4 linked regions of the Homo sapiens genome follow. The main gene of each other region encodes a partner of the protein of the gene in region 2 in a complex. Each region holds a gene or a part of one and is shown on either strand. Other genes may lie near its edges. The genes, in order: MED18, CCNC, MED26 and MED23.

Region 1 (4,460 bases), on a different chromosome or scaffold from region 2:
GGAGAATCACTTGGACCTGGGAGGTGGAGGTTGCAGTGAGCTGAGATCATCGCAGTACTGCACTCCAGCCTGGGCAACAAGAGCGAAACTCTGTCTCAAAAAAAAAAAAAAATTTTTTTTAACAAAAGGGGAGTGTAGACAAATGTCCTGGAAAGATGTTAATGATAGATGAATGGGAAAAAAGGGTTATAAACCAGTATATATGGAATCTTTTTATAAAATAAACACATTTCATATACATAAATTTATAAAAAAATAAAGACTAGATGGATATATACCAAAATAGAACTAGTACTTCTCTTTGGATAATAGGTGTTATTTTCTATCTGTACTATATTTTAAAAGTTTTCAACAATAAATATGCTACTTTTATGAAAGGTGAAAACTCTCATCCTCATCTCTGCCACAATTAAAACTAGGAACTGTCATTTTTTTTGCTTCAACTGGTAATGAATCTACCCCAAATTTACAGGGTAAGGGAATAAAGAATCAGAATTACACAGACATGTCTCTTCATTGGCTTTATTACCATGTAACACAAGCTCACAGCCTCTAATGTTACCAACCTTATACACAAATGGCCAAACAAGAAATTGTCCTTTCCAAAAGATAATTTATTCTGGTTTCCCCTCTTCATTTTTATTTTTTTTTGAGACGGAGTTTCGCTCTTCTCACCCAGGCTGGAGTGCAATGGCGTCATCTCTGGTCACTGCAACCTTCACCTCCTGGGTTCAAGCGATTCTCCAGCCTCAGCCTCCCAAGTAGCTGGGATTACAAGCGCCTGCTACCATGCCCGGCTAAATTTTGTATTTTTCGTAGAGATGGGGTTTCACCATTTGGCCAGGCTGGTCTCAAACTCCTGACCTTGGGTGATCCACCTACCTCAGCCTCCCAAAGTGCTGGGATTAGAGGTGTGAGCCACTGCGCTTGGCCCGGTTTCCCCTCTTAATACAGTGGGATTAGATAGATTCTCCGTGACATCCTGAGCCTTTAATATAGAAAGGCTGTCATGAAAGTGAAATCGCCACATGAGGAGAACAGTGCAAAGAACCAATTAATTCTCACCATCCTCTCCCTGAAGGAAGAATGCCTGCCTGGCAATGGTGAAATGGGACATTTAAAACATATTTTTTTGGCCAGGCGTGGTGGCTCATGCCTGTAATCCCAGCACTTTGGGAGGCCAAGGTGGGTGGATCACGAGGTCAGGAGTTCGAGAATAGCCTGACCAACATGGTGAATCCCCATTTCTACTAAAAATACAAAAATTAGCTGAGCATGGTGGCATGTGCCTGTAATCCCAGCTACTCAGGAGGCTGAGGTGGGAGAATTGCTTGAACCCAGGAGGCAGAGGTTGCAGTGAGCCGAGATCGTGCCACTGCACTCCAGCCTGGGAAACAAAGCGAGACTCTGTCTCAAAAACAAAACAAAACAAAAACCAAAAAAAGCAAACATATTTTTTCAAACAAGTAAGGATAGGCCCCAAATGTGGACAGATCCTCTTAGTCACATGAGCCTCTTGGGGTCTATTTTCTCTAGGTGAACCAGAGGTTTTAGCTGTTCTGCGAAGTTCTTCATGTCATCAGAGACCATGTCCTGCCCAGCGGGTGCTACCACACTTAATTCCACGAGATAGGAGAGTGACAAGGCCTCAGTGCTGTCTGTGTTCCCTGGCACCAGGATGCGGAAAATCTTGTACACCATAATCTTCATGATGCCCTTACGGAACAAATGTCCCTTAGCAACAAACTCATGGTCCATGCGGAAGCCCATTTCCATCAAGAAGTCGGTGAGGTTCTCAGATGTGGCAATGTCCACGCAGTTTCGCACCAGGGCATGGCGGTTCTTGTCTCCCATTTCTGGCTGTCCCAGGTAGCGCAGATGCCAGGGTGCCCCTGCCCTGTCCATAGAGCGTCGGGCCCTGAGAACAAATGGGCTGGCTTGCTGGCCCTTAAGGAGGAATACCATCTCATGGTCAAGGAAAGTCTCAGGTTCCATGTTGTCACACAAACCACGAAGGCGGTGGATGAGGCTTTCCAAACTGTGATCTAAAACACTTCCTGAAAACGGAAAAAGCACCACTGAGTCCTGTCTTTCATTTTAGGTCATGGAGTTAGTATACAATTGAAAAAACTTAAATGAAAAACCAAAACAGTTTAGTGAAGCATTTCATAAAACATACAGCCAAACATGAGATTTTACAGAAATTACACTACCAAGGTATTGTATAACGTTGTGAGAAAGTTATTTTCCTTTTCAATTTTTTTGGAATTTTCTTATTTAGCACTACAAAGTCTTTAGGCCTCTTCTAATGCTCATCTCCAGCAGGCCTGGGGCTTAGAGCCTTTAATCAGCGACAGTGTCTATCTAGAATGTAATAATACTGTTTTAGTTATGTATTTATTTATTTTTGTAGAGTTGGGGTCTTACTATGTTGCCCAGGGTGGTCTTGAACTCCTGGCCTTGGTCTCCCAAAGTGTTGGGATTACAGGCACAAGCCACCATGCCCAGCCAATAACACTATTTTGTTGTTATATATTTTAACAATTGCCTTCTATTTCCAACAAATCAAAGTCTTCCATTTATAGAAGAAATATAAAGTCTCCCCCGCTTTTTTTGAGACGGAGTCTAGCTCTGTCTTCAGGCTGGAGTGCAGTGGTGCGATCTCAGCTCACTGCAACCTCCACCTCCTGGGTTCAAGCGATTCTCCTGCCTCAGCCTCCTGAGTAACTGGGACTACAGGCGTGTGCCACCACGCCCAGCTAATTGTTGTATTTTTAGTAGAGACAGGGTTTCACCATGTTGGCCAGGATGGTCTCGATCTCTTGACCTCGTGATCCGCCTGCCTCAGCCTCCCAAAGTGCTGAGATTACAGGCATGGAGCCACTGCACCTGGCTAAAGTTTCCTTTTTATCAGGAAAAGTTTTCCTCTTCTGTATGTAAGTAGAAGAGAGTGAATTGCTTCATAGAATCTTCATCCTCTTGGCAACATCTGACATAATTGTTACAGTAGATTATACCCACTATGAAATCTATTCTTCCCTTGGCCTCTGAGACACAACTTTCTTGTCTTCACTTAACTTGCTGACCATTCCGTTTAAGTCTTCTTTGCTTGGTCTCTCTCATCTTCCCCAAACACTGGAGGACTAGGACTCAATCCTGGTCCTCTTCTGTATCAATACTCTTTTCCTGCCTAGGTGACTTTATTTGGTCCCATGGCTTTAAATATCATTTAGGCCCTGAGGACTCCCACGTTTTTATCTCTGAACTACAGATGAAAACATCCAACTTCCTACTCAGTTTCCTCACTTGGATGCCTAACAGACATCTTTATCTTAACATGTTCAATATCAAACTGTTGATTTTTTCCTCCAAAATCTTATTCACCCTACAGTCTTCAACATCACAGTAAATGGCAACTCTCTGTTTTTAGTTGGTTACCCAGGCCAAAAACCAGAAAATCATCTTTGACTCACACCCTCTTTCTTTCTCTCATACCCTCCATTGAATCCGTATTTTTGAAATAAATGCAGAATGCAATCACTTCTCACTCATCTGGTCACTTCAACCTAGTCCCTTCAAATGAAGTCACCCTCATTTCTTGCCTGGTCTTTGCAATCGCCTCTTTCTACCTTTGCCTTCTTCCTCTCTTCTCCATATGAAAGCCAAATGGTCTATTAAATTATTGGGCAGATAATAACACTCCTCTACTCAGGACACTACAGTGGCTTCCTGTGTCATTCAGAATAAAAGCCAACATCTTTACCGTTGTCAACAAGGCCCTACATATTATGGTCTCTGCTACCTGCCAAACATCATCTCCTTCTATTCCTCCCCTTGATCATTCTCTCCAGGAGTGACCTTCCTGCCACACCCCTTCTCCTATTCTCTGTGCTTAGGATGTTCTTCCCATCTGCATGTCTACTCTATCACTTTTGTCAGGTCTCTGCTCAAGTGACTTTATCATCAAGGCCTTTTCTGATCACCCTAATAAAATAGTATGTGTCCTACCAATCTCTAGCCACTTTCCTGCTTTATTTTTATGGCATAGTTTTGTTTTTTTTTTTTAGGTAGGGTCTCACTCTGTCTCCAGGCTATAGAGCAGTGGCGTGATTATAACTCTTTGCAGCCTCCATCCCCTGGGCTCAAGTGATCCTCCCGCCTCAGCCTCCCAAGTGGTTCAGACTACAGGTGCGCACCACCATGCCCAGCTAATTTTTTTTTTTAGTAGAGATGAGTTCTTGCTATGTTGTCCAGACTAATCCTGAATTCCCGAACTCAAGCAGTACTGCAGCCTTAGCCTCCCAAACAACTGGAATTACAGGCATAAGCCTGTAACAGCTGGCTTGACATACATTTTTTTAGTCATCTTTCTGCCTCCATGGCTATGGCTCAAATGTTAGGAACATATTCAGATACTTGTTTACAAAATCTGGCTGGGCGCGGTGGCTCACGCCTGTAAT
Region 2 (7,034 bases):
CAAAATTCTTTATCTTTACAATATCAGATCATTCATTGAAATTTTTGAAAATTGCTACTGAAATTTATAAAACAGGACAATAGCCAGCAGTGAAAAAAAAAAAAAAAAAAGATGGCACAGAATCAAACTGACATGAAACTACTATAGTTCTGAATTCTGCCCTGAATTTCAGATGAACTTACCTAATTCTGTCAGCTTTAAATTTATGGTATATGACCATATGTTGAGAGATACCTGTAATATACCTCCACTGCATTAGGAAAAGTTACTAATCAGATTAGTGATTTTTTTAAATGAGACATTCTCAATCAAATCACAAATTTAAAAAATAAAATTAACATGGATCATGAAGTTTTGGAAGAAATGTTTTAAAAACTACAAAACAACATAATCTAAGAAAAATATAGTAAGTATGATATATGATTAAATGACATCAATAATTAAAGTCTACAAAGTACCTGTTTGGAGGTGGTTTTGGTTTTGGCATCTTACTAAGAATGGTTGCCATCTCTTTTCTCTCATCGAAATTCTTCCACTGCTCATATAGTTTTAAAATAACCCTGATTATTTCCAAAATCTAGAAGAAAATATTTGAAAAGTTCTCAGTGGCAAAAACAAGCAACATTTTTTATATAAAGAGCATACATCACTACACAACCCTCAGAAAACAGTAAATAGTCTCTGTCCTTAAATCCTGATAAATTTGAAAGCAGTATTTTTCACCACAGTGCTGTTTAGGATTTTCCTTCTAGCATCTCATTTTTCAGCATGTGTGCATTGTCCATTCTTATCTATCTCTGCAGCTGATTTCCTTCCATCTGATGGTATCTTTTAAACTGAAACATACTAAGAATAAAGGTTCTAATCATGAGGGAATATACCACTATAGAGCACACTCCTCTAGTATAAATTATTTTAAACAACTTAATCGGGGGTAGTGCACAAAAGATGTTTTGATTCTCTGTTACTACACATACATTAAGGTGCTCAAAAACTGGCAGCTACAAATTTGAAACAACTAGTTAACAAATTAGCTATTTTTTTCCCACCTGAGTAGAACCTAACCTTAGGATTAATTTTAATGCATTTAACACTTGAGCAGAAAAGCTAGAAACACAGCAAAAGCCATTCTGCCAGGAGATAGGCTATGTTACAGAAGTTCACAGTAGTATTCAGTGGTTACCAGGGAGCTTTTAAAATAATCCTGGGAATGAGAGGCTACTTTGCAACCAATTAAACCAAAAGTTTACCATTCTGTTTAATCCTAAACTGAAAAGAGATACATAACTTAAATAATCAGCATTAACTCTTCCTACCAAACTTTTTTTTTTTTTAAACGGAGTCTCGCTCTGTTGCCCAGGCTCGCGTGCAGTGGCACGATCTTGGCTCACTGCAACCTCTGCCTCCCAGGTTCAAGCAATTCTGTCTCAGCCTCCCGAGTAGCTGGGAGTACAGGTGCATGCCACCACACCCAGCTAATTTTTGTATTTTCAGTAGAGACGGGGTTTCACCATATTGGTCAGGCTGGTCTTGAACTCCTGACCTCAGGTGATCCGCCCACCTAGGCCTCCCAAAGTGCTGGGATTACAGACACAAACCACCATGCCCAGCCCATGTTTCTTAATATTTTGTAACCAATAATCTTCTTAGCCTGGTGGACATCACAAGATTTTAGGCTCATGATAAGTAAATATGACATTAATTTTTAAACATCCAAGTTTACATACAACTAAGGGAATACCTTTTCCATATCCACAGAAAGCTCAGCAAACCATTGCCTGGCATCTTTCTGCTGTACAACACAGGCTACATGTAGGCAAGCTGAAATGAAAATGAGAGACAACTGTCCATGTTTAACTGCAAACACAGAATATATGATCTAACAAAGATTTTTCACTATTTCCTGTGTATTTTCCAACACTCTTTAAAAAACATTAAACAGCTACATATGAGAGTTACCACTGACCATCTCATCAATGTAATCCGAGACAGAAAAAATTACTAGATTACATCAAGTTCTTGACATCTGGTCCTCACTGCGTGCTAGTCATGGTGCAGTTGCCTTGAGAGTCAGGCACGTTAAAGAGGAAAAACATCCAATGAGGAGAGCAGAAAAGGGAAGTTATCCCTGAGTAGTGTACAAAGTAGCCGTTAAACTGCACCCAGAAGTCAGTGTGACAAAACAAAACAAACAAAAATGTTAATTAATATACTAGGTTTTAACAATGTTGACTGTGTTTCCACATTTCAGTTAAAAGCAGTGTTGCCTGGCCTTTTTTCTTCCTTTTCATTATTAGCACATGATCAAGTTATGTGAAAGCTGGGCACATCCTTACAGAATTCAGTGTTGTAATCAAATAAAGGTTAGAAAATAAATGTAATATACTGTATACAATATTAGTTATATATGTTATATACAATATAAACTAACAAAAGAGAGGAATCTACATCATAATTTTGCCTAAAACAATTTCTACTGAGCAGCCTGTATACCCTTAACCCACTCCAGCTTAAGTTATACTCCGTGGTCTGGTTATCCATGTCTTTGCTAAGGATGACATTCTAGGCAAATAGCAACTCAAATGTGAACTGACACACTGGTTGCCCTAAGTCAAGCAAAGCTATGAGTAGGGCTTAGGTCAAGAAGAGGTTAAAAAAAACCAAATGACTGACATGATAAAAACAGGAAATTAAAATACAGTGGACAATGCTATTAACATGGGCATGCATAGAGTACACTGAAGATTGAGGAAGCATCCTAAACCCAGACTGAGGTGATGCTGAAAGGGTGGGGGAGGGTCACTGAAGAGCTGATATCTAAGCCAAGTCTTACAAAAAAAAAAAATGAGAGTGGGAGAAGAGAATAGTATGTATATCAATTGGGAGACGAATTTGGCTAGCTCCGGGTTTCTCAATCTTGGCACTACTGACATCTTAGGTTGAACAATTCTTTGACACTGTCTTGAATACTACAAGATGCTTGGCAGCATCCCTGGCTTCTACCCACTAGATGCTAGTAGCACCCTACCCTAGTTATGACAACTAAAACCAAACATTGCCAAATGTCCCCTCGGGGCAAAATTATCCCCAGGTGAAACCACTAGCCTAGCTCAACAGTTTGGAAGATAGACAGGCTCTCTGAGGATGGGAGTGCTGGAGGCTAATAAGCCAGTTAGGAGACTGCTGTGGTAACATGGATAGAAATGAGAAGATGACTATGAGATTACAGAAGGAACAATCGAGAGGAAGGCACAAAATGTACTGGTAAACAACTACATGTGGGTATTGAGGGAGATGAAAGGGCCTAACTGCTGGGTTTCCAACTAAGGTATATAACTAGTGCTATTCACCAAACTGGCAAAGACATTAAAAGGAGGAACATATTTTGGGGCAAAGTGATAAGCTCAATCCTCATCATGAGTCTGAGGTGCTGGTGGGATGCCAAGCGGAGCTATGTAAAAGGAAGATGGATATAAAGAACTGCCAAGTGGCAAGATCTTGGCTAAATAAAGAGATTTAAATGTTTCGGCATGTAAGTGATAGTAGAAGCCATGAATCTCAGTTAAAGTACCCAAGAAGAAGACAGCAGGGATGGCAAAGATGTGACACATGTTCTGTTATCCCTTCCTTCCTACCTATGCAGATCCCAGTATTCCTACCCACTGGGTAGGACACCACTCAAAATCCTTTCAAATCCAGTCCTTTCAGGGAACTGCCAGTAATACAGAAGTGTAAGTATAACCTATTTGTCAGCCCTGATGTAAGAAGGCCAAGAAACATCAACATTTAAGGAATAATTGAACAACTGAACAAAGACAAACCAATGGAAAATAAGAGGGGAAAATCAAGAGGATGGAGTTATAAAAATCAATAGAAGGGGCTGGGGTGCAGTGGCTCACGCCTGTAATCCCAGCACTCTGAGAGGCCAAGGAGGGTGGATCACCTGAGGTCAGGAGTTCAAGACCAGCCTGGCCAACATGGCGAAACCCTGTCTCTACTAAAAATACAAAAATTAGCCAGGTATGGTGGTGGACACCTATAATCCTCCTGTAGGCAGGAGAATCGCTTGAACCCAGGAGGCAGAGGTTGCAGTGAGCCAAGATCACACCACTGCACTCCAGCCTGGGAGACAGAGTGAGACTCCATCTCAAAAAAAAAAAAAAAAAAAAATCAATAGAAGGAAAAGGAACAAAAATTAACAAGTGCCCAATATATAACAGGCATTATTTGGTGCTCTACAACCTATCTCATTTAATTCTTCAAACGGCTCAGTGGAATTATTAGTATTCTCTCCATTTTACAATTAAGGAAACAAACACGGAAAGGTCAGATAATTTTCCCACAATTGTAAAGGAGGTAAAGTTTAAGCCTAGGACTATCTGACTCCACCCATTACAGCACTGCTTTCCACAGACTGTAGAATGAATGTACTTAACGTCTTCCTCCAGCCAAGCATTATGGACCACAGATGCTCCTTTACTCAACCTCTGAGTATTTGTTTGGGCTCAGGATATGAAAGCCCCAATTATTTTACATGCTACAACTAATATTAGCTGGCTTAATTCTGAACTTTTCCCTCTAAACAAACAAATATGTTCTATTCAGACACCGATTAAAACTATTTTGAATGGTTTCAAAAAAAAAAAAAAAAAACTTACCAAAAAGGGGGTGGGGGAATAATAATCCTGATTTATGACAGTTGCAGTTCATATTATTGAAAGCTCACATGCAAGGATTAGTCTATTACTTCATGGAACATAAAAACATAAAGTACAATAGGGTGAAATTTAGTTTAGGATGACCTAAATAAGTTTATAACAATTTAACTCATAAAGGCACACCATGCTTACATACCTAAAGCTATCATGAAAGGAGGATACAGTAGGCAAAGATCCGTTCTGTAGGTATCATTCACTATCCTCCTATAGAAATGTAAATCATATTATTACTGAAAGCAGAACTACCTCATCTGATTGTATATTTCCTCCAGAGAGGGCCAGATTTCCCATCTTTGCACACATTTATTTCCTTTTATACTACTGAAGCACAGCTATAAAAGTGAAAACATCAAGGCAAAAGGATGGATACATGAATGTGACAACAAATAAGCACATATCAATGAATAAAATTACAGCTAAATATATTTTAAATTTCAAAATCTCATAACAAATTATAAACACATTTTTCTAATTTTTTAAAAATCAGAAAAATCAAATTAAAAAACCAGAAATTATACAGTAAATTTATATGTATGTTGCAGACTACCAAAAAGTATTCTGATTACTTTAAAGATAACTTCAGTCTTAATTTTTATGTTAACAGTCTGTGTTTTGTATAAAATTAAATTTTAATAGGTATATTTATGGAACAGATAATTTAGGATTGTTTTCATTTTGGCATTTACACCACTATAGTTATTAAAATTCAACAAGTGGTATTTTGCTCAACATAAAATATCTTGGGGCAATAGTTTAATGACTTTAAAAATACTTAACTTCATATTTAATTGTCAACCTTCCTATCTAATAACATGTTACACTATTAATAACTTCTGTTCTAATTACCATGCAAGGGGAAGCAACATGTCTTCTTGGCCCATGTCCTGCACATACTGGAGCAAAGGTCTATAAGGATGATACACTATCAAGCAACAATCCTAGAAACAGTTTAAAAAATGTGTATGTATAAAAAACAGATTTATTACAACACAAAAATGTTATCATTACCCAACTGATTTGTAATTGTGTATTTCAAAGTGAATTTCACTAACTCATGCTTGCTTCCCTTTTATTCTCTTAAGCTAGCAGTATGACAGCCCTAAACTCTACCGTAATAGTGAAGGCAGTGCTCTCTCTGGAATATACCTTGATAAATCGGTTGGCAGTCAGTCAGCATCCATTCATTCCCTTAGAGACTCAAAGTGTCACATCTGCAACACACTGAAACCTCTTATTAGCCTATAAATTCATAATTCCCAACTGGAGGAGCAGAATTCTGCCAAAGACATAATCTATCTTTAAATAACACTGCACGCACACACAAATTGTGCACATAATTTATGGTGGTTTAATGTCCTGACTTGTCTGTTTGTAATCCTTTCATTATAGTTACTTACTATAGAACAGAAAAATTTTCCCATCCTAAGTAGGATATACAAATTATTTTACAGGCTTCAGAGAGACTCTAGGTGCTAATATAAATAGGCTACCATGATTTCACCATCACATATTAGGTGGATGGTTTTAAAATGTACCTCTCTAAAATCATTTCTTTAAATAATTTCCAACTTCATTTAATTTAAAAATGTTTTAATCTATTAATCACAGAAGATTTACTTACCATTAGTTCTAACAGATAGAATTCACATTCTAATATCTGTTTAAAACAAAGATTATCAATGAAATGTCAATATGAAACCAAATTAGATAAGTCCACTTAATCTAACATAAATTACAGACATTATAGTAATTTATCAAAAATTTTTACTAAAAAGTTTTAAAAATCCAGACAATAAACATAGTTTATATTAAAATAAATATCTGCAATAAAAAATTACTATTAGAAATGCAATTATGATTATAAGGATTTTAATCCTTGTAAGGAAAAGCCAGCTTCTCACAATCATTCTTATTACTCACTTTTATTTAAAATATCCTGTAAAACCATCAGATTTTCCAGTATACTTTCTACTCAGCAAATGCAAAAATACAATTATTTCTACTTAATTTAAAAAATGTAACTTAAAGAGAATAAACAAATCCCTTGCAAGGTGGAAAAAGGACATACCTATTAAAATGTCAATAGAAATTCACCTTATATTTCATATTGTTCCATTAGTTTTTAATCCCAGCTAAATAGTAGTATCACCTGGGACCTTTTACACAGTACCAATGTTGGGAGCCCCAAGGCTGAAAATTCTGATTTTGTTGTTCTGGAAAGGATCCAACATCAGTATTATTTACAAGTTCCCAAGGTGATTTAATGAGCAGCCAGGGTTGATAATCGCCACTATGAAGTATTTTTTTTAAATGGTA
Region 3 (7,034 bases), on a different chromosome or scaffold from region 2:
GTCAGACCAGGGAGGTCCGTGGGCGGGCTTTGAGGCACCAGCACATGCAGCTGCCTGGCCCCTTGCCGGGTGCTCTCCTCCTGCTTCAGGTACTCAGACATGAAGTGGTGAGCCCCTGGGGTCTGCGCGCCCGATGATGAGAGCAGGCTGCTCTGCCGGCTCAGGTAGGACTGGATGATCTCGTTGCGTGACAGCTCCTTCCAGTTCGTCTGTTCGAAGGGGCTCTGGAGGCTGGCCTTGGCCTCCTGCTTGTCCAGCTCTGTCCTGGACTGCTGCTCCATGTGCACAGGGCTGTCTGCCCGCACTGGCTCTTTCTGGGTCAGAGGTTTGATCTGTCTCGTCATGGGGTCAAAGGTGAGCTTCCGCTCTTTTAACCGGACAGGCTTGACGCCCGCCTCAGCCACCTGCCCGTCCAAGTTAACCGTATAGTCTCGAGGTCGGTACCTCTTCTTCTTTTTACTGTCCGAGCCCCCTGAGGAGGCAGCATCACTGTCCGCCTTGGAGGAGTCTGGGGAAAAGCCTGCCCGGGACAGGAGGGGCTCGGCTGGGGACAGCCCTGCCTTGCAGCCCGGCCCCGCCAGCCGCTGGTGGCTCTCAGGCTGCTCAAGCCAGCACACTGGGCTTTCCGCACTGGGCAGCAGCTCGAGCCGCCGTACGGGGGGTGTGGACGGCTGTGCCAGTGGAAGCGGTGACGGCACCTGTGTGGCATCGAGTGCCTGGGGCCGCGGTGAGGGGCTGGGCACGGAGCCCTTGGGTGCATACAAGCTCTGCTGCCGGGCAAAGGAGCCCTCATGCCGTGAGTTCCGAGGACTGAAAGAGCAGCGAGGGGGTCCCTTGGGATGGGGAGGCCCCGGAGTCTCGTCCACCCTGTCCAGCTGCTGCAGCACCGAAGCCTTTGGCTGCAAGCAGGGTCCAGGGGGCTTGCCCAGGCCCGGGGAGCTGGTGTGCGGTCGCACGGCGTTGACGGGGATCTTGCCACTGTGCTTGTCATTCTCGTCACGCTCCAGGCGGCTGCCCTCTGGGCCTGCATGCCCACTGCCATCCAGGGAGCTGGCGAAGCTCTCTGGACTCCCACTGATCCCGTTGGTGGGGAGGGGGGATGAGTTGGGGACCAGGGGGTCGTGGCTAGCTTTGGAGACCTTGGGTGGCGGCCCTGGGTGGCCGAGGTCACGCTGGTCACCCCGGCGCTTGCGGCTGCCCAGCCTGTCCAGCCGCTGCCCGGGCAGCCTCTGGAGGTCATTGCGGCTCTTCAGGTCATGGATGCTCCTGGGTGGGCCAGCCGCCCCCACCTCCGGCCGGCAGTTGTGTGCGCCCCCGTTGGCAGAGCCGGTGGCCCCCGCCAGCCCCCGCAGCGCCGCCTCATGCTGGTGTGCCGGCTCGATGAGCTTCTGCCAGCTCCGCAGCAGCTTCTTGGCCCGCTTGGCGAGCTCCTCGTTCTTGGTTTTCTTGCGGACGTCGTTGATGAGCTTCCCAAGTCGTGTTTCCTACAACCAGAGGGAGATGATGACATACTTTCGGGACAGGAACTTCTCCATGAGCTGAGCCAGAAATGGTGGGAAGTGGCCCTGACAGTGAAATGACCCGGTTCCCACTGAGCCCTAAACTGCCAGCTTCCCTGACACAAAACTTCTGGGGATTTCCGGTCCTTTGTGACAATATAAATTCTCAAACCTAGTTCCCAGACCTTCAGGGTCCCAGGTGGCTTCTCAGCAGTGCTGTCACCCAGGCTCCTGGTGTCAGGGGGCTGTGGACCATCAAGGCCACTGTAAGGACACTGCCAGAGAGGCTTCCTGGGTGAGAGGGTGCTGTGGCCGAGGCGACAGCACAGAGGGTCCGCTTCAAGTGGAGGGTTGGGGATGGTGCCTCTCACTGGAGCCTCCTCCAAGCACACCTCTCCTGATGTCCCCACGTGCCCACGAAGTGTGCTGGGCATGTAGGATGGGAGTAACACCACTTGGTCTCTGCAGTGCCCGTGGGAGAGCAAGATCGCGAGGCACGAGCTGTGAGGGCACACCGCCTCTCTTGGTCCTCCGAAGCAAAGACACTGATGCTCCCAGAAGCTGCGGAAGGACCTGGTTGGTACCATCCCCTGCCCCCCGTTCTGCCCTCCCAAATGCTGGGGTCTGGGATACTCACCTCAAGTGCCTCTTTGGTAATAGGGTATTTCTCCAGGCTGGAGATGACTTCCAGCACCGCCACCATGTTCCGGATCTGTGGAAATAAAAAGCCATTTGTCAGGTCCCTGTCCTTCTCCACTGGGAGGCTGGAACACCCTGCCCCAGCCTGCTCCAGTCTCTCCCCAACCCCAGAGCAAGAGGAGCCAGCAGCACTGAAGCCCCCACTCCATGTCGTCTCCTACCTGCTCCCTGGGCCAACCTGGCACCCAGTGCTCATCCTCACCTGCCGTCTGACCTCCTCCAGTGTGTGGTGTGCGGGCTGCCCCAAGCCCTCCAGTGTACATGGTACATACCCACCCACCTGCTGAAACCCAGGATGCCTGTGGAACAAGAGCTGCTCCTGATACTTAAGATGACCTCTACTCTGCCATCTGATGGGAGTGGGAGAGGAGACACGGAAGAATTCATCGAATAAAATCCACAAAGCTTAAAAGATCAATACACAGGCCAGGCGCGGTGGCTGACACCTGTAATCCCAGCACTTTGGGAGGCTGACGAAGGCGGATCAGAAGGTCAGGAGTTTGAGACCAGCCTGGCCAACACAGTGAAACCCCATCTCTATTAAAAATACAAAAATTAGTTGGGTGTGCTGGCATGCGCCTGTAGTTCCAGCTACTTGGGAGGCTGAGGCACGAGAACCACTTGAACCCGGGAGGCGGAGGGTGTAGTGAGCTGAGACCACACCACTGCACTCCAGCCTGGGTGACAGAGCAAGACTCCGTGTAAAAAATAATAATAATAATAATAATGATAAACCAGTCAATCTGAATCCAAAGACACCATAAAGAGAGCAGAAAGTCACAAAGTGGGAGAAGGCATAGGCCACAGGCCCCCAAGGAGCTGTATCTGGAACACAGAATGCCTGTACAGCAGTACAGCTGACCAGGAGCCCGGCGTAGACTGGCCACAAGACAGGAACAGGCACACGGCAATGAAATGTCAGTGCTGATGCTCAGCCTCTCAGCTTTATCGATAATCAGGAAAACTCAAACTGAACCCACAAATGGATACATGATACACGTGCCCCACTGACAACACTAGGTACTTCGGGGGATACAGCTGACTTTGGGGACTGCTGGGCTTTGTCTGGCAGAGTGAAGCATGAACACATCCCATGACCAAGTAATCCCTCCCTTTTAGGATCTTGCTAGGAGCCACACCTTGTTCTAAGCACTTCCCACACATTACTGACTCCCTTAATTGTTACAACAAGAATTCCTACCACTCAACCACCACCTCCAGCAACTACAGGTTTCTGGTGGGCTGGCTAGCGGGTGGGAGCCCAGGGGCCCTGAGGAAACCACAGTGAGTAGATTACTCAACTCCCCCCCACCCCAACATGATAAAGGAGTTAAGCGGGCACATGATACAAATTAAAACAGCATAAAAGGGCACACAAGGAAATGGGCATCTCTGACCCAGCCACTGTAGCATTTCCTTGCATTTTTTTCCAAAAATATCCCTTGTGTATATAGGCGTATACATCCACACTTATCACATATTTCAAAACCAAACTGACAGTGGTTCTTGCCTTTTCTGACTTAATGTCAGCAATGTCCAGCCTCAAACAGAGCCCCTCATTTGGCTCACCATCCCTTCCAGAGTGGGGAAGGCCCGACTTGAATGCTGTGGGACACTTAGGCACTTTCCGTCCGCCATTACAAAATAAGGCTGCAACCGACGGCAGTGACAGACCTGACTCTGAGCTAGTGCACAGACAGCCATGGAGGAGCTGGGGCTCCACATCCATGCAGGGTGGTCACCTCACCCCCAGGGAGGCTGCTCTATTCCATTCCCACCAGGCCACATCCTTGCCAAGACTGCGTGGCAAGAGTTTCCGTAACACATGATTGTAAACTTAGCATCTTACACAGCACACATTTATCATCTTAGGCTCTAGGGCTCAGAAATCAGGTCTGAGTCTCACTGGGCTGGGATCCTCTCTAGAGGATCCATTTCCTGCTCCTTCAGGTGTTAGCAGAGTTCAGCTCTTATTTTGTTTTTTTTTTTGAGATGAAGTTTCACTCTTGTCGCCCAGGCTGGAGTGCAATGGCACGATCTCGGCTCACTGCAACCTCCGTCTCCTGGGTTCAAGCAATTCTCCTGCCTCAGCCTCCCGAGTAGCTGAGATTATAGGCACCCGCCACCACGCCCAGCTAATTTTTGTATTTTTTTTTAGTAGGGACAGGGTTTCACCATGTTGAAGGCTGGTCTTGAACTCCTGACCTCAGGTGATCTGCCCTCCTCGGCCTCCCAAAGTGCTGGGATTACAAGCGTGAGCCACTGCACCCGGCCCAGAGTTCAGCTCTTTACACTACAGGAATGAGGCCCATTTTCTTGCTGGTTGTCATCCGAAGCCATTCCCAGCTTCTGGAGGGCACTGCATCCAGCTCACACCCCCTCCCCTTATGCTCAAAGCCAGCTACAGGCTGAGTCCTCACCCGGCATCTCTCTGACCCAGCCAGGATAGGTGCCATCTCTAAGGACTCCCTGACTAGGCAGGGCCTGCCCAGATGATCTCGGATCACCTCCCCATCTCCAGGCTGTTCCCTTAGTCACATCTGTCATGTACGGTACCATGTGCCCAGGCTCCAGGACTAGAATGTGGACGTCCTTGAGGGCTGTTAATTCTGCTGGCCTCATGGATTCTGGCTTTTCTACTCTTCTGCCCCACTTCCAGTGGGAGGCAGCCACTGCCACTCCCTCCCTTCCCGTGTTGTCTCCTCTGGGTGTAAAGTTGCAGAGCCACGACAGCAGTCCCCGCAGAACTCCCACAAAGCTGCCCTGCCAATGGGCCCATTTGCTCTTTGGCAACAACGGCCTTGCCTTGCAATGTTCTCCATTCAGGGCTCCAAATGACCCTGAAAACCCTGCTTCAAGCTGTGTCATGGTGGGGGTGGACGGGTGATATGAGGGGAGATACAGTCCTGTCCGCACTCCTCGTGCAATGGGCAGGGATCAGTGCAGGGGAAGACTGTGCGATGAGGAGGCCAGTCCCAGACAGACAGCAAGGCCAACCACTCCCTGCCCCAGGCACTCCAGCACCGACTCAGTCCCTGGGCTTGCCACATGGCTTCACCTCCACCCTGCTGACCTCACCCTGGTATATTTGGAGCCCTGGTTCCCCACATACTCCTGAAGCAGCAGTCCTTGCAGAGCAGAACACTGCCCAGACCCAGCTAGCCTGGTGGCACAAAGTGTCCTTGTCCTTGGGCAGACACCATCCTGCTGCCAGACAAGAGGGAGGAGACAGAACACCTGGGCAACCCCAGGGTCTGGTACTGAGCTGGTGCCCCAGAAATCACCGCTGAACTAACAGCCAGTCCCAAGAGTCTCCTGGAAACTGTGTGGGAGCTGGGGACACCAGGCGAAGGTGTGAGGGCCCTGTGACTGTGTATCCTTACCCTTGGCCCCTCCCCTGCCTTATGAGCCACGCTTAAGCGTGTGCAGAGAGGCCTTCAGCCTCTAGGAGCCCCAAGGGAAATGCTACAGCCTTGGCAGTCCCCTTTCTGTCCCCACCGTGTGAGCTGCTCACCTGAGGAGTAGAGGAGCCCGCCTGCTCTACCTGTAAGGTGCTAGAAACCCACAGTCCTACGCCGTAAACAGATGAACTCTGCCAACACCTGAAGGGGCAGAAAATGGATCCTCCAGAGAGGAGCGCAGCTCGCTGCTTCCTGGATCCCAGCCCGGTGAGACTGGAGCTGACTTCTGAGCCCTAGAGCCTGAGATGATAAATGTGTGTTGTGTAAGACACAGAGAGAGGGTGAGTGTCCAGTGCGGCCACTCCCTGGAGCCAGCAGAAGGCAGTCAGTGATGTCAGCAGAGCTAAGGATGGGGGCAAGGTGAGACTGCCCTGCCCTGCGACCTCTGGGGCATTGATGTCAAGCAGTCTGAACACTGTGTGGGGAGCACCACCTGGGCATCCAGACACAGGCCTCCCAGGCCCAGGAGGCAGACACTGAGCAATGCAGCGAGGAATCCCTGCAAAGGGCCTGGCCCCGACCCCAGGCACACTGAGCCAGAAGGCTCCACAGAGCCTCTTTATAGATGGCCACAGTCTGTCCCAAAGAACACTTAGCACCCAATTGGTGCTGGTCCCATAGGAGCAAAATAGGAGCTGGCTTCTGACCCTGGCCCTGGGGACCCTGCCTTAACAACCAACTGACCCCCCACCCAGGAGTGGCAGGTCTCCCACTCTCATGGAGGTGGCCCTCTGTGAGTGACAGAGACACCAGGACTCGTATGTGGCTGAGGGGAGGCTCCCGCTCTGACTCCAGGCCTGCTAAGTCCAGCATGAACCCTCAGGGCAGGGAGGCAGGCCACAGGGGGAGGGCAGCACCTAAGGTGGCCTCCCAGGGAGGTCAAAAAAGGATGTGGCAGAACGAGCTGTGTCCACCTGGGCTGGAGACCGACTTCCATGCTGGAAAGCAGAAAAGAGCTGGAGAAGGATGGGCAGGGAGCTGGCCAGACAGCACCAAAGCCCTGCGGCAGGGGAGAGGCCATGGGTAAGGACACCGGGAGGAAAAACAGACCCAAAAGACCCAAGGTGGCTCCTTCACAACCTGTCTTCTATCCCCCTTAGCGACTGCCCCCACAGACCACCTGCCCTTGCCCTGTTTCTGGGATGCCCTTGGCACCTGTCCATCTATCTGGGGAAGTACACTAGATCCTAATCTCAGCACAGACACAGTTTGACTCCACATGGGGAGCCGCTCCAGGCGATGGCCTCAAAAGATGGCTTTAAGGCAGCTCTTCAGGCTTGCCAGGGCCATGTCTGTGGCCCGATGGCCAATTGCAGCCTCTTGCTGTCAGGAATAGCCTGGCACATCTGAGGCCCCCTCCTCCTTTGGATTCTCC
Region 4 (7,034 bases), about 32 Mb from region 2:
CAGTTTCAATAACACTGGTAAAGAAACTTAAATAGATACTTCAGAATTTAATCATGTCACAGGAAACCCAGATTATATTTTACCTCTATCATACAACGAGTTCTCTCTTGCTGAAATCTTTGTAAAAATGGTCCAACAAGATGGTATACATAAAGCAACTGGAATTCGGTCTTCACTATAGGAAGAAGTACTTCAGTAAGAAACCTAAAATTTGAAGATAAAAATCTCCTGTGACTTGAAATTATTTAAATTGTTTGAATTTTGTTCATACAGTATATACAAAGTATTACAATAAAATATAATTTTTTAAAGTTCCTTTTAATTTGGTAACAATAATATTTCTAATTAATCTCACATCTCTCACTGGCTATTACTTTCACTTGATTATTTTTATTTATTTATTTTTTTGAGACGGAGTCTCACACTGTTGCCTGGGCTGGAGTGCAGTGGCGTGATCTTGGCTCACTGCAACCTCCGCCTCCTGGGTTCAAGTGATTCTCCTGCTGACTAGCTGGGATTACAGGTGCACACCACCACGCCTGGCTAATTCTTTTATTTTTAGTAGAGACGGGGTTTCACCATGTTGGCCAGGATGGTCTCAATCTCCTGACCTTGTGATCCACCCATCTCGGCCTCCCAAATTGCTGGGATTACAGGCATGAGTCACCGCGCCCAGCCGCAAGTTGTTCTAATGAATGAAGTATATACCTCATCTGTTAATGAGATTAGAACAAAATGAAATACAATTTTTTTTTTTTTTTCAGATGGAGTCTCACTCTGTCACCAGGCTGGAGTGCAGTGGCGCGATCTTGGTTCACTGCAATTTCCAGCTCCCTGGTTCAAGTGATTCTCCTGCCTTAGCCTCCCGAGTAGCTGGGGTTACAGGCACACACCACATGCCCAGCTAATTTTTGTATTTTTAGTAGAGATGGGGTTTCACAATGTTGGCCAGGATGGTCTCAATCGCCTGACCTTGTGATCTGCCCACCTCGGCCTCCCAAAGTGCTGGGATTACAGGCATGAACCACCGCACCCAGCCTACGTCAAATTTCTTTAAGAAATTATTATACTTACTTTGGAATGAGAGAAAGTTGTCCGATGCTAGAATGGTGCCACACAGCATGTGCAAGAGCTAACGTATAGCTACAACTCATCTCAGAGTAGGACTGATGACAGGCAGTGAAATCAAAGAGGCGGAATGGATAGCCAACCCACTCTGTTTCAGACGTCAAGCTGGGGCTGCTGATGACACTCACAATTCGATCATGAAGAACAATCCAATATGGCTCCTTTAAAATCGGAGGAAAGCTAGTGAAAAATATCACTTATCCAGCATTCCACCCCAAAGTCTAAAGTAATAGTGTTTTCTCATTCTTTAAAGTTTTCTATTTTTCCAGCTTCTGCACAATACAGCTGGGTGGCTTTGTAACTGGTCAAATTAAGTCAGTAACAACCTGGGAGAAGTAACTGTGAGTTAAGGGGCTCCATACATGTATCTGTCCAGCTCATTTAGGTACCTGATATACACTATGCAGTAAATCAATTAATTTATCAAACAATAAATCTATAGCTTTATTACTTATTTAAAAATAATAAACTTTAAAAAAATATGTGTGGAGGTCAGAGAAAGGAGTCTTCATGTGAGCTGGAAAAGTCAGGGAAGGCTTCATTCACTGAGAAAGGAGGCTCTAAGCTAGCAAAGAATGAATAGGCTTTAGAGAAGGTGATGGAAAGAAGAAGCTTCTGGAATAAGAAAAATGTCTTATTCCCTCACATTCAGAAGTACCTAAAACATGTCTTAAGCACTATCTGAAGGAACAAAGGCTGTAGATATACAACACGTTAAGTGGCCAAGAGTAGATCAAGCTATTATGTAAAAACTAAAGTTGGATAGGTAAGGTGGTACCAGAAAATGCAGAGACCCGTAAGTCACATAGATATATTTAGATCTAATACAGAAAAGCAAAAACTAGTCACTGTAGATTTTTAAAGCAGTAATAATATGAAAAAACTTTAAAAACATAAAATACTTCATTAATTTGCATGACGTCCCGTACAAGGGCATCCTATATGCATCTTTTTCTTTTTGCTGACATGGAACAGCTGGCTGTATTTCATCACTAAGTACAAATCACAATTATTAACTCACTGGTAGGGCAGTGATGATCAAACCAATTGCATTCATCCATGCTGTAATGTTCTCTCTTGGCACTAAAGGCTGACTGCAACCGGCAAAAAAGAATGTAAGTATGAATTTATAAAAACATTTTAGATGGCTGACAACGGATCTTATTTTTAAAGAATATGTCTAATTCAGAGGATCGACAACTAATCCATTTCAATAAAACAATGGGGAATTTTTTATTGAATAAAAATGTAATATGCATAAAAACTCAAGAAGGCTTTTTAAAAATACTTCCTCCCCAATCATTATCCCATACTTCATGCTAATTTTTAAAAGAATCTTGAAATCTTGAAAACAAGATGAAGAGAATCTTGTTTTAAGTGACAAGTTAACATTATTCCTATATTAAATGTCAAACTGCTATTAATGAGTAGAAGTAGGAACAAACCCGGATCTTAGGATCCTGTCCAGGGCTCATTCCATAACTCCTATATCACAAAGACAAGATCTGGAACCAGAAAACAGTCATCATCCAATGTGCATCAGCCTTGCGGCAACAGGTTTGTCTTAAAAGTTTGAAATAGAATACCATTCTATTTACAAATAAACAACAAATCTTACTGCATGAACCAGAATACATACCTTTTTAGGACAACATTTAGAAGGGCATTCCCAACTTCTTTGCCTGAAACTGCCAAGGCCATGAGCTCCACACAAGTAACATGGAGAGCATGGGCAGCTGGGTTGGGAAACTCATTGAATCTCCAGTCACAGTTTGGAAAGGGACCAGGAGATTTGCCAGCCATCGGTGCACACAGTTAAAGCAATAACAATTGGACTATCTCATCTGATTGTCAATTTATCTGATTATGAGCTGCCAAGAAGTGATTTGTCTACGCTTAGAGAGATTAAGAGGCAAATGCAAACCAAATACAAATGAGTTTGACATGATTGAAATGTATTAAAAGCAACCATTTGATTAACCACAGGTATAAATGGTTGGTCTTTCAGGTGGGTTCTTATAAATATGACATATAATAGCCACAGATGCAACCAAGGTTTACCTAGGTTTCATGAGCCTATTTCTTTTAATAGTTATAAGACATTAATATGAAAATTATTTTCTAATGAGTCATTCTTTTGCTTCAGAAAATAAATTCCTTTGTGTAGGAAAATAAGTCATGCTCATTTATGTAGAATTTCTTACCTAGTAAAATAGTGGTATGGTTATAGACATTAAGTATAGAGTGCTAATAACTGAAAATATAAAATCAAAATGAAGAAATAAACATCCAAGTATATTTTCACTAAAATATACCTTTTCAATAAAGAAAAATATATTTTATCATTTATTATTTACTACAAACATTAATTTTTTTAAAGTAACAAGATCCTACGTTCTCCAGTAGCACACAGATGCATGTGCTACAAAATATAGTATGTAAGAATAAGATTTTTTCTTTGAAACAAATCTCCATAAAGTCTATTTTTAAATATAATTTTTTTACCGCTTATCCTCAAGTTCTAAAATAAAAATTTTAACAGAATTTCAGCCTAATTGGCATGATGCTGTTAATTTAAGATTTCAAATCTTTACAGAGATGAAAATGGAAGTGATCTTAAAAAAAATTAAAACCTTGAAATACATAAAAAATTACTTTAAAAGAAAAAATATATTCTCATAAATCAAAATACTGTTATTTCTGGGAGTCTAAAATCACAATAAAAAGGATATTATCGACTAGTCTGCCAATCAATCTGCAATAGTAGGTGTCATCTGGAACCCAAGGATTTTCCTCTCGTGCATTCATAGCGCATTTCAGGTAAGTGTCACTTAGACACCAGCCCTGCGGTCGATTATCCTTCAGAGAGCCAATGATCGCATGGACGAGTTTTCGTTTGAGAAATGCGCGGTCTCTCAGGTGCATTTCATAATAGTGCAGAGTGTTATACAGATAAGTCACTGGACGATCTGCCAAGAAAAAAACATACCACCACAATGTTTAACTGGTTACTAATAACTGTGAAAAACTGATCAACTGCTTTCCAGATAACTGAAAAACAGCTCAGAAGATTTATGAAACAACTTCACATGCTGGGCAATTGTATACTATGAATATTTTAATCTGAGGAGAGGCAGAAGGCTCAGAATGTTTCTAGTAATATACAGTTTGTATTTATATTTGTTTTTATTTAAGTGGAAGCAATTCCATTTCTGAAAATTTATCCTGCATAAATTTTAATCCCTTGACATACAACAAGGGATGTCATTGCAGCCCTGTTTATACTAGCGAAAGATGAAAAACAGCCTAAAAGGTCAAAAACAGGGGACTGATAAAGTAAATCTGGCATGTATGAGGCAGCTCTTTACGTACTAATACAAATGACCAACCCTAATACATGATAAAGTTGAAACAAACAGGGTACAGAACACTTGTGTTAAAACAAACAAACAAACAAACAAACAAACAAACAAAACCAGCCAGGATATCTAAGAGGGGATGGCAAGAGACTGGTAACACTGGCTGCCTACGAAAGAAACTGGGTAGCTGGAGGCCAGGATGGGACTAATTACCTTTCACTGTATACTCCACCCCATCAAGTATGTATATTACCTAATCCAAAAGAAAAATGTTTTTAAAAGAACGCTCACTTGAACTTTATGCCTATTCTACCATGTTAACACACAATTCATACTTCTGCTCTGAGGGAAGGTATCTTAAAGATGAAGCAGGACTGCCTGCCAGACAAACACTTTGTTCCCAGAGTGGCTGCTCCAGGACCTTCACATTTCTGTCACTGACCCTGCCACTCTCCAGTAACTATGCTTAAAATTTTAGTTGTCTTTTTCTTTCAATATTCTCCTTATAACCAGCCAATCAAGTCCTGTTCCTTCTTTTGTGACCATTTGTCCCTTTTCTCTCATTTTCAATGCAACCACTGTTGCTTAGATACTAATCACACAACTGAGCTTTTTGACATGTCCTTGTAATGGCTTCATCCTAAGACTGCTGCCAACTATAACTGGATGTATCTTTCTGAAATAATGTTTCCTATGCCATGATCATACTCAATAACTTCCAGTTGATTATTATCTGCAATTACAAAATCAGCCTAGCATTCAAGGTGATCTACAGTTAGGTACAATCTGTCTTTCCAATCTTATTTCTAGAACTCTCTGGTAAGAATTTTCAATTCAACCCAATGTAGCAATTTTTCTTCAAATATACTTTATCTCCTCCATGATTTCCCCCAAATGATCCCTTCTGCCTCGTGTGCTATATTTTCCCTGCTGCTGCTATAAATTGGATGCATCAAGTCCAAATCCTACCCATCCAAGAAGGCCGCCAAGATCTGTTTAGTTTACAGTAACATCACCCTGTTCTGAACTCATACTTTTGTTTATATTTTTATGTTGTATATTTTATACTTCATGGCACCATCCATAGTACTTATCCTCAAAACACTTCATTTTTAAAATATTTAAAATAAAACCTTTAGAGCCACTATTACCATGTGGTCCTGCCCATCCTACTTTTGATAATGGAGGTATTAGACGAAATTAAAATTGGAAAAAGCTCACCATGAAATTTATATAAGCCTCCTAGATGATCCAGTAGAGTCTCCAGTGATTTGGATACCGGAAGCAACTCTAAAAATCTGTGGATTACTATATCAAATACTGGAAGGAATCGAAGACACACATTCCCAAAATAGATGGGCAGATAGGGAGACTGGATCTGTACAGGAGGATCCACCTGTTCCGCGAGGCCCTCAAAATACAACTTCTCTGGATATTTCTGTGGAATTGAGAAGATGATAAATGGTTAGAGCATTTTTTAAAAAATTCTCTTAAAAGAGCTAAATGTGAAAACATTGTTTAGATTTTTTTTTGCAAGGAAACATTTAAAATTATACTTGATTATACTTTACTTCTTTTTATAGAAGTCCTTATGTCCACTAAAACTGCAGTTTCAATTTATTCTCAACATTATAGAAACTCTCAAACCTTGAAGAAGTTCAGAGAGCTAACTTACTTCTATATAGACAAGAGAAAAAACATTAGAACCAGAGAGAAAACGGCCAAATCACTTCATCAAATACTCAAGTATGGCTTTAAAAGGACTATTTGAAATACCAATTAGGACTAGTACCTTGTGATAATTCATGTGCTTGGTGTGCCAGTCATTCTGTAACCAGTGCTCTGGGGAATTTTCCTTCACAAAGTCACTTACTCGATTTCTAAAATCGTTTGGTTTGAGTAACAGCAACTGAATTATGAAATAACAAACCTGGGCTTCATTTCCTTCGTGACTACGCATGGCCTTTGAAAAACAACAGAAAAATTATATGAAAATGTTCAACCTGTGTAAAATCATGAGGGCCATCTGAAAGCCTAGATTTTAACAAAGTAAAATCTCACTATTATAATTTCCTTAGACGTCTAGTCTATCCCAAACCAACTGTTCAGTATTCCCCAAACATATATGACCTTTCTTGCCTATTTCTGGCTTACCATTCCTTCTGCCTGGGATGTCCATCTTTACTTTTAAAAATTTAATCTATCTTTCACAGCTATCACCTAAGCAGATAAGATTTCTCACTGTTTCCTAGAAATATTTTTTCTACACCTCCATCTTATCCTGACATCTTATTGATTTATAGACTTACATTATTCCCCCTAAAATATAATAACTACTTTTATATCTATGCTCCACAGCTAAGGGGTTAACGTTAAACTATGCCACTCCAAATGTCACCGCCATAGAATTTTTTTCAATGTAGCATTTTCCAGCCTACTTCAATATCTTTTTAAAGAAATCTACCCGAAGGCCAGGCGCGGTGGCTCACACTTGTAATCCCAGAACTTTCGGAGGCCGAGGCGGGCAGAACACGAGGTCAGGAGATT

The links.
Region 1: CCNC (region 2) and MED18 share a complex: the UniProt entries of both Homo sapiens proteins name them as parts of the mediator complex.
Region 3: CCNC (region 2) and MED26 share a complex: the UniProt entries of both Homo sapiens proteins name them as parts of the mediator complex.
Region 4: CCNC (region 2) and MED23 share a complex: the UniProt entries of both Homo sapiens proteins name them as parts of the mediator complex.

The regions. Positions count from the first base shown.
Region 1 is NC_000001.11:28,332,014-28,336,473, reverse strand, and holds the end of MED18 (mediator of RNA polymerase II transcription subunit 18), read right to left. Parts: intron 2,058-4,460; coding exon 1,504-2,057; 3' UTR 509-1,503; downstream 1-508. UniProt on the Homo sapiens protein: Component of the Mediator complex, a coactivator involved in the regulated transcription of nearly all RNA polymerase II-dependent genes.
Region 2 is NC_000006.12:99,544,654-99,551,687, forward strand, and holds part of CCNC (cyclin-C), read right to left. Parts: exon of another isoform or gene 6,376-7,034; coding exon 6,340-6,375; exon of another isoform or gene 5,940-6,339; coding exon of another isoform or gene 5,916-5,939; exon of another isoform or gene 5,657-5,915; coding exon 5,565-5,656; intron 4,923-5,564; coding exon 4,855-4,922; intron 4,747-4,854; coding exon of another isoform or gene 4,736-4,746; exon of another isoform or gene 4,659-4,735; intron 3,732-4,658; exon of another isoform or gene 3,644-3,731; intron 1,822-3,643; coding exon 1,742-1,821; intron 578-1,741; coding exon 459-577; intron 1-458. UniProt on the Homo sapiens protein: Component of the Mediator complex, a coactivator involved in regulated gene transcription of nearly all RNA polymerase II-dependent genes.
Region 3 is NC_000019.10:16,576,199-16,583,232, forward strand, and holds part of MED26 (mediator of RNA polymerase II transcription subunit 26), read right to left. Parts: intron 2,617-7,034; exon of another isoform or gene 2,212-2,616; coding exon 2,137-2,211; intron 2,076-2,136; exon of another isoform or gene 1,968-2,075; intron 1,485-1,967; coding exon 1-1,484. UniProt on the Homo sapiens protein: Component of the Mediator complex, a coactivator involved in the regulated transcription of nearly all RNA polymerase II-dependent genes.
Region 4 is NC_000006.12:131,590,239-131,597,272, forward strand, and holds part of MED23 (mediator of RNA polymerase II transcription subunit 23), read right to left. Parts: intron 6,451-7,034; coding exon 6,280-6,450; intron 5,926-6,279; coding exon 5,709-5,925; intron 4,098-5,708; coding exon 3,861-4,097; intron 2,934-3,860; coding exon 2,768-2,933; intron 2,223-2,767; coding exon 2,150-2,222; intron 1,290-2,149; coding exon 1,075-1,289; intron 205-1,074; coding exon 84-204; intron 1-83. UniProt on the Homo sapiens protein: Required for transcriptional activation subsequent to the assembly of the pre-initiation complex. Component of the Mediator complex, a coactivator involved in the regulated transcription of nearly all RNA polymerase II-dependent genes.